2 separate regions of the Homo sapiens genome follow, and region 1 is linked to region 2. Evidence: fine-mapped expression QTL. A gene starts in region 2. The other region holds a variant in brackets. All regions are shown on one strand. Distances are between the middles of the regions. Region 1 overlaps HDAC4 (histone deacetylase 4). Region 2 holds the start of HDAC4 (histone deacetylase 4).

Region 1 (4,379 bases), 120 kb after region 2:
TACATTGTGTGTAGAGTGCTGTGTTCATTGTAGAGTGGTGTGTACATTGTTTGCAGAGTGGTGTGTACATTGTAGAGTGGTGTGTACATTGTAGAGTGGGGTGTACATTGTTTGTAGAGTGGTGTGTACATTGTCGAGTGGTGTGTACATTGTTTGCAGAGTGGTGTGTACATTGTAGAGTGGTGTGTTCATTGTGTGTAGAGTGGTGTGTACATTGAGAGTGGTGTGTACATTGAGAGTGGTGTGTACATTGTAGAGTGGTATGTTCATTGTGTGTAGAGTGGTGTGTACATTGAGAGTGGTATGTACATTGAGAGTGCTGTGTACATTGTAGAGTGGTGTGTACATTGTAGAGTGGTGTGTACATTGTGTGGAGAGTGGTGTGTGCATTGTAGAGTGGTGTGTACATTGTGTGGAGAGTGGTGTGTACATTGTAGAGTGGTGTGTACATTGTGTGTAGAGTGGTGTGTACATTGTAGAGTGGTGTGTACATTGTGTGTAGAGTGGTGTGTACATTGTAGAGTGGTGTGTACATTGTGTAGAGAGGTGTGTACATTGTAGAGTGGTGTGTACATTGTGTGTAGAGTGGTGTGTTCAGTGTAGAGTGGTGTGTTCATTGTAGCATGGTGTGTACATTGTAGAGTGGTGTGTAGAGTGGGGTGTTCATTGTAGAGTGGTGTATACATTGTGTGTAGAGTGGTGGGTAAATTGTAGAGTGGCATGTACATGGTGTGTAGAGTGGTGTGTTCATTGTAGAGTGGTGTGTACACTGCGTGTAGAGTGGTGTGTTCATTGTAGAGTGGTGTGTACATTGTTTGCAGAGTGGTGTGTACATTGTGTGTAGTGTGGTGTGTTCATTGTAGAGTGGTATGTACATTGAGAGTGGTGTGTACATTGTGTGTAGAGTGGTGTGTTCATTGTAGAGTGGTGTGTACATTGAGAGTGGTGTGTACATTGTAGAGTGGTGTATATATTGTGTGTAGAGTGGTGGGTAAATTGTAGAGTGGCGTGTACATTGTGTGTAGAGTGGTGTGTTCATTGTAGAGTGGGGTGTACACTGCGTGTAGAGTAGTGTGTACATTGCAGAGTGGTGTGTACATTGTTTGCAGAGTGGTGTGTACATTGTAGAGTGGTGTGTACATTGTGTGTAGAGTGGTGTGTACATTGTGTGGAGAGTGGTGTGTACATTGTAGAGTGGTGTGTACATTGTGTGTAGAGTGGTGTGTTCAGTGTAGAGTGGTGTGTTCATTGTAGCATGGTGTGTACATTGTAGAGTGGTGTGTACATTGTAGAGTGGTGTGTAGAGTGGTGTGTTCATTGTAGAGTGGTGTATACATTGTGTGTAGAGTGGTGGGTAAATTGTAGAGTGGCATGTACATGGTGTGTAGAGTGGTGTGTTCATTGTAGAGTGGTGTGTACATTGTTTGCAGAGTGGTGTGTACATTGTGTGTAGAGTGGTGTGTTCATTGTAGAGTGGTGTGTTCATTGTGTGTAGAGTGGTGTGTACATTGTGTGGAGAGTGGTGTGTACATTGTGTGTAGAGTGGTGTGTTCATTGTAGAGGGGTGTGTACATTGAGAGTGGTGTGTACATTGTGTGTAGAGTGGTGTGTTCATTGTAGAGTGGTGTGTACATTGAGAGTGGTGTGTACATTGTGTGTAGAGTGGTGTGTACATTGAGAGTCGTGTGTACATTAAGAGTGGTGTGTACATTGTAGAGTGGTATGTACATTGAGAGTGGTGTGTACATTGAGAGTGGTGTGTACATTGTGTGTAGAGTGGTGTGTTCATTGTAGAGTGGTGTGTACATTGTAGAGTGGTGTGTACATTGTGTGGAGAGTGGTGTGTACATTGTAGAGTGGTGTGTACATTGTGTGGAGAGTGGTGTGTACATTGTAGAGGTGTGTACATTGTGTGGAGAGTGGTGTGTACATTGTAGAGTGGTGTGTACATTGTGTGTAGAGTGGTGTGTTCATTGTAGAGTGGTGTGTACATTGTGGAGTGGTGTACATGGTTTACACACGTGTGTGCATGGGGACAAGACTTGGATGGAGTTTGCCATCCCCTGTTAACAGCAGACAGTTCCAGGATGTTGCGTCGCATCTTTGTTGTGCCTGGTGTCTTCCTCACGCGGGAGAGAGGCCCCCGAGCCTCCTGGCAGAGGCCACAATGCACCTGCTCCCACAATGTTTTCCTTACCCTTTTTAAGTTGCTTGGAGGCTTCAGCATTTGGGACCAGGTGGGGAGGCGTGCAGTGCCCGGGTCACCTGCCTGCCTTCTGTGCCCCTGGCTCGCCCATCGGAGGGACCAGTCGGCACGGCTGAGTCATGCTGACTCAATGTTTCATACAGTGGAGCTGGCTTCCCAGAAACAGCTCTGTATTCCTCTAATGTTCTTCGTGCATGTAACGTGAAGTGGAGTTTGGGGCAAAATGTGCTTTCAGGGC[T/A]TGTGGCCTTCTTTCCTTCTTTAACACAGCGTCTCGGGAGTACGAGGCACTCGCACATCAGCTTTGCCCCCACTCTTGGGTTGCTGGCATTGTTAAAAACGAGAGAATATAAGGTAGAAATTTCCAGATGCCTTTTTTTTTCTTTGACCAACATGTTTTTCAGGGTTGATGCCACAAGAACCAGCACATGTCTCAAGTGGCATAAGGAGATTTCATCAGCATGGCCAGTTCTTAGCTGACGAGCTGGAATCCCAGGGTGCTAGGAAACACAGGCACTTTGGGGTTGGGGGGTGCTGTCCTCTTCCGCAGGAGTGGAAGGGATGAGATGCTCCCGAGAGGTGGGATCCGCACTTTCTGTGGACCACAGTTATTGATCCTAGAATTCGGGGAGGGAAACGTCAGACAGGCCACTCATGGTTTGTGGCCACTTTGGAAACATTAGGGAAGGGTCCTGGGGAAGGCGTGGAGAAGCCCGGTGAGAGCTGGCCATTCATCCTGAGGGCGCGGTTTCCACCTGGACTCTCGTGGTGAGGGTAGGGGACACTCCTCACTCAGTCGCCCCCATCCCATGCCCCCTGCGGGCCTGGCCTGGTGTGGCTGGTTCTTGTCCCCAGGTCCCCTGCTCTCAGGAGACCTTCATTTGTGGGAGGCACTGTGGGGGCTGTGTGAGATTTCTGGCTTCTGCTGCTGCTGGAGCTGTCCCAGCTCACTCCACCCTGGGCTGCTCCCACCCCTGCCCTTCTGCTCCTCACCCCGACAGTGTCCTCTCTAGGGAGAGGTTTTCTGCTGGGACGTTGGAGAGAGGACAGACTTCAGAGGCAGAGAGACGGGCCTGAACCCCAGCTTTTCTGCCTAGATATTGGGAGCATTACTTAGTTTCTTTGAACCTTGATTTTCTCGTCTGTAAGATGGATGTAGTAGAACTGCCTCATGAGTTTATTATAAGGCTGAGGGGATCAAGTGTGAATTTAGTGCCTGGTGCCAGTTTGTTCATTGATCCCTCTAATGAGTCATTTGTTCAGTCACTGTTTTCAGCTCAGAGACGTGAGCATCTCCTGGTCAGGCACAGACCTCAGGCTTTGCCTTCTTAGCAGCCCAGAGTCTCCTGGGAGAAACAGCAAATCAGGCACTTTGCTTTTGCAAGCAAAAGCCATTATGAAATTTGAGTTTGCTGATGCCCTGGAATCAGGAGGGGAGCCCTCCGGCCTGTGGGCCCTGCTGCCCCATTACCTCCAACCACTTTCCCCGCCTGGGGCAGGGTGTGGCCCCACACCAGCCCCACTTTTCTTTCTTTCTGGTTTTTCAGTCCTGCCGGCAGCATAGTCTTTTTATTTGTTTGTTTGGAAGAGATAGGGTCTGACACTATTGCCCAGGCTGGCCTCGAGCTCTTGGGCTCCAGGCGCCCTCCTGAGTAGCTGGGACTACATGTCCACACTACTGCACCTGGCTTCAGGAGTGTGGTCTTCCCGGCCCCGGCCCCAATGGTCCTCATGTTTAAAGAGGAAGAGAGCCACACTGATGGGCAGGAAAGCCGTTTCCTGAAGGAAGGTCCAGAGCCACCTTAGAAGGTGAATTAAAGCAAACCACAGCCTTCGGCCACTTATTTTGACTGACATGTGGTACAAAACATGTTTTTTGTTTTTATTGAGACAGTCTCCCTCTGTCACCCAGGCTGGAGTACAGTGGCATGATCTCGCCTCACTGCAGCCTCTGTCTCCTGGGCTCAGGCGATCCTGCTGCGGCCTTCTGAGTAGCTGGGACTACAGCTGCTCATCACCATGCCCGGCTAATTTTTGTCTTTTAGTAGAGATGGTGTCTTGCCATGTTGGCCAAGCTGGTCTCGAACTCCTGGGCTCAAGCAATCTGCCTGCCTCAGCCTCCCAGAATGCTGAGATTATAGGCGTGAGCCCTTGTCCTGGCCCAAAATATGTTTTT
Region 2 (4,379 bases):
TTTCCAGACATGGCGAGTGAGGTTCTTGCACCATCCACCCAACGTCTGCGTGGTGCCTCACTCTGCTGGAGTGCCTCTCAGGACTCCTGTGAGGACTAAATGGCACGCAGCAATGGGGCTACCCATTCCTTCTAATGGAAATCTACTTTTTAAAAATTACCTCTGCAAGCATTAGATCCCAGAGCTCGTTTCACGTGACTTTTTGCGCAGGCACTTCTCTTTGTACGTGAAAAACTAACTTTGGTAGACTTACAGGCAGGTTTTAATATTTTCTCGTGATTGTATGTTTTTGAGAATCCTGTCAAATGATACTGAATCTTATCTAGATGTTAGCTAGCTACAGACCCTGTTTCATTCTACATGAAAATTAGATAGTGCACCGTTTCCATCAGCAGCCAAGTCTCCAAAACCCCGTAATTGCTCTCCTTTTCTTCAGCTGTATCTTGTTTTAAAGTTCTCTAATTCACCATTCCTTTCCTTCTAAGTTTAGCCTAAGCATTTCTTGCAATGACCAAAGTTTTCTAATTATTAATGAGATATTTAAGGAAATGTAAAATTGGCATTTTTATTTTGCTAACTGTATTTTTATCCACATAACTAGTTTCCCCCACCAAGAATCACAGGTCGAGAATGCTGTAAAAACGGATCCTTTCTCAGCTCCTAAAAGGAATGGCCTACAATCGAAGCGAACGCGCATCTCCGCCAGGTCCGCAACCACAGGCCCACGCCGTCGGGCCCCACGAACCGGCGCGCGCTGTCAAAGGCGCTTCCTCCCTGGAACGCGGGATTCCGGGGACAGTGTGTGCACTCAAGTTGAAAAGTTGTCATACTCCTGTTGGAAAGAAACGGAAACATCACCACCAGGAGGGTGGCCACTGAAGACCCTCGCCGACACCTGCTGGCAACCAAAGGCGCTTCCGGGGATCTACGGGCCGACCTGTAACTCAACACAAGCCTCCCAAGCCCTGCGGCCTTAAAACAACGCCCACCCGGGCGGTGCGCCGTTCCCGCCACCTCCACGCCTGCCTGGACCCGGACTCGAGACCCTGGCGGCGGGCCGGGCTCCCTCCGCCTGAGCAGGGACGCGGCGAGCGCATCCCACGACCCTCGGCAGCCGTTGCAGGCCTGGCGGACCTACACCCCACACCCTCACGGCCGCGTTCCCGCCGCGGGGCAGGGCGAGGCCCACGGCGCCTGCGCACTCAGTGACCGGGCCGCCCTGCGCCTCCGTGCGCACGCAGCACCACGTGACCCACTGCCAGTATCCAAGATGGACGCCGCGGCGAGGCCTGGCCGGCTCCCCGCGTTAGCCTGCACCCCATTGTGTGCCCTCTAAGCGCGAATTAGGCTCGCAGACATGCGGTGCTGACCGCTAGGCAGCCATGCGGGCTACCGAGTGCGACCGGACACGGCCGGGGCCCGTGTTTACGGCCACTACTGGCCCCCGGTCCCTGCGCCTCCTCAACCGCGAAGCACCCAGCGGCTGGCGCCTGGAGCGTCTTTTGGTACGCCCCACCCTCTAGAATTGGCAGCTCCAGCAGCCAATGAGGTCCAGGACGCGTGCGGGGAGGCGGGCAGGGGTGGAGCCTCTCTGCCGCTCATAGGGCATCCGGCCCCGCGGTTGAGCAGCCGCTGGGCGAGGGGTGGGAGCAGACGGGCTGTGCGCAGGTTTCAGCGGGCCAATGGAAGGCCGGCCAGGCGCCCGGGGCGGGCGGGCGGGAGGCGGGGCCGAGCCGTAATTGACGAGCTCTTCATTAGAAACCAGGCGGGAGGGCGGGGCCCGCAAGGGGAGGTGACGCAAGGCTGCCGCAGCCAATGGTTGGCGAGCCGCCGGCTGGCTGGGCGGGGCCGGGCCGGCTGACGGGCGTGCGGGGTGGCCTATCGCCGCCTGGCTCGACGCTGGAGTGGGGAGAAGCATCATGGTTCAACGTGGGTCAATTTTTTGTGAATGAGGAGGGGAGGTTGTGGGGCCGCCGCCGCGGAGCACCGTCCCCGCCGCCGCCCGAGCCCGAGCCCGAGCCCGCGCACCCGCCCGCGCCGCCGCCGCCGCCGCCCGAACAGCCTCCCAGCCTGGGCCCCCGGCGGCGCCGTGGCCGCGTCCCGGCTGTCGCCGCCCGAGCCCGAGCCCGCGCGCCGGCGGGTGGCGGCGCAGGCTGAGGAGATGCGGCGCGGAGCGCCGGAGCAGGGCTAGAGCCGGCCGCCGCCGCCCGCCGCGGTAAGCGCAGCCCCGGCCCGGCGCCCGCGGGCCATTGTCCGCCGCCCGCCCCGCGCCCCGCGCAGCCTGCAGGCCTTGGAGCCCGCGGCAGGTGGACGCCGCCGGTCCACACCCGCCCCGCGCGCGGCCGTGGGAGGCGGGGGCCAGCGCTGGCCGCGCGCCGTGGGACCCGCCGGTCCCCAGGGCCGCCCGGCCCCTTCTGGACCTTTCCACCCGCGCCGCGAGGCGGCTTCGCCCGCCGGGGCGGGGGCGCGGGGGTGGGCACGGCAGGCAGCGGCGCCGTCTCCCGGTGCGGGGCCCGCGCCCCCCGAGCAGGTGGGCTCCGGGCCGCCGGGAGTGAGGGCGGGGGCGGGCGGGCGCCGGGGCCGGCCGGGCGCCGTTTATGTAACTTTGTCAAATGCTGTGAGTTTGCAGAAAAACGTCCCTGCCGGGGGTCCGCGGCCCCGCGCTTGTCGTCGCCGCTGCGAGCGCCCGGGGGGTCGCGGGAGGGCGGGGGGCTGCCCGGGACCCGCTCGGCTCAGCCCGCAGGGCGCCAGCAGGCCGAGACGGGGCCCGGTCCCGCTCGGGGGTGGGATCCGCGTTTGCCGGCGTTGCGAAAACACACCACGGAATCATAAGCAAATTATCTCGTATTTACATTGAGCGTTGAATTATTTGACACTGTTATAGGAGGAGACCGTGCGTATCAGTTGGAAAGGCCGGGGGTGGAACCCAGTGTACTCATTTAATGCACATCAAAAATTTGTAATAACTTGAGGCAGCTGATATGAGTGTTTTCTTTATTGCATGTTGTAAATTGACCTGCTGTGACACAGTTTTCAAATAAAGCGTTGCAGAAATTAAACTTAAGTTATTTTAAAACTAATGACTTTCTTCACTAAATCCTAATTGCATGACTGTAGAGACCTACCTAATTGCTTGCTGAGAGCAGTTCTGCTTGCTCTCCGTGAGGGAGGAAAGGGCCTGTGCAGTCACTTTGCCGCCCCGTTTTTCTCTGTTCAGGCTTTTCTGTTTATTCCCACAAATCACCGAAGCAGTTAAGGCCTGGGAGTAAGCCTGTAAACAGTCCTGGCCCAGCGCCAGCCCAGCAGGACTGGGGGGATACTGGCAGGTTTGCACCTTGACCTGGTTTCACTTTTTCTTTTGTAATATGATCGTGGTTGCCTGGAGTTTTAATTGCTTCTGATAATTCTGTGCATTATTTTCGGGACTGTCCAAAGAAGGCTGGTGTGGTGGTTTCAGGACCTAGCCAGGAAAGGTGGTGGTGGTGGCTGGGGAGAGGGAGGGTGGAAGGGAGGGAGATCGAATTAAGAAAACTCAGCTGCTTGTACACAAATATACACTACAGCAGTTACAAAGCAACAAAAGTTATTGCAGAATTTTGCAGTAACTATGGCAACACAATTACTCTATTATAATTGGAAATGCAAAATGCCACCGAGTTAGAAGTTTCATCAGAATGGAGTTTTGGATATCAAAAATATGTGAAATTTAATTTTTTTTCAGGTAGCTCTTGTGAATTCTAAAATCTGTGTTCAATTACCTATTTTTAAGACTGATCGGGCTTTCCCAGATATTCTACTCTCTGGGATCTGTGGCATCTTTCCCCAGAAGAACTCACATTTGTGTGGGAGGGAAGTATTTTCATGCCTTAAAAACACACACCCCAACACATTGTAAGACTTCTATAGCTTTCTGTGTTCTGGGCTTTTATTTTAGAGATCAAATCCCATCCTAAAGAGAGCAGTAATCAATTAGAAAAGAAGCCGGCTGTACTCAGCAGGCAGATGTAACGCTGCCCTCTTTAGGGTTCTTTCTCCTGCAAGGGGAGCTGGCAGCAGGCATGCCCCCGGGGGAGCCCTGGGCTAAGGGGACGGGGTGGAGGGAAGATGACTGGACTGCATATGGGCCTGGAAGGCCTAGGGACGAAGGACAGATGTGGCCTCGGAGCCCTGCACCAGAGAGAATGTTCTGTGTTCAGCAGCTTCCTAGCCATGCAAAATAAAAATCCCCAAATGCCATATTCTCGGAGGCCTTGGGGGCTGTTGCTGTAGCAAGATGGACAGGACAACCTGGCACGCTGGCCACGTGCGGCTCAGGCAGCCCATCTGGACTCTGTGGCCAGAGACCTCGTTGAGAAGAATGCCCTATGGATGTTTACCAG

The links. PIP is the estimated chance that this variant, and not a neighbour inherited with it, causes the effect.
Region 1: its variant is the best candidate, but not a certain one, in a credible set for the expression of HDAC4 in whole blood (TOPMed, PIP 0.63).

What each region holds. Positions count from the first base shown.
Region 1 is chr2:239,278,381-239,282,759 of GRCh38, reverse strand. The region is part of intron 2 of HDAC4 (histone deacetylase 4); the gene reads left to right. Among named protein-coding and RNA genes, the nearest start is that of MIR4269, 25 kb to the left of the region's middle. The variant T/A (reference allele first, on the strand shown) is at 2,445.
Region 2 is chr2:239,398,528-239,402,906 of GRCh38, reverse strand. It overlaps HDAC4 (histone deacetylase 4), which reads left to right and starts at 1,887. Exons shown (of 27, transcript NM_001378414.1): 1 at 1,887-1,929. HDAC4-AS1 (HDAC4 antisense RNA 1) reads right to left here and starts at 1,471. Exons shown (of 2, transcript NR_135575.1): 1 at 1,371-1,471; 2 at 550-832. RefSeq lists an enhancer at 679-808 and silencers at 939-1,208, 1,479-1,598, 1,619-2,058, 2,069-2,238.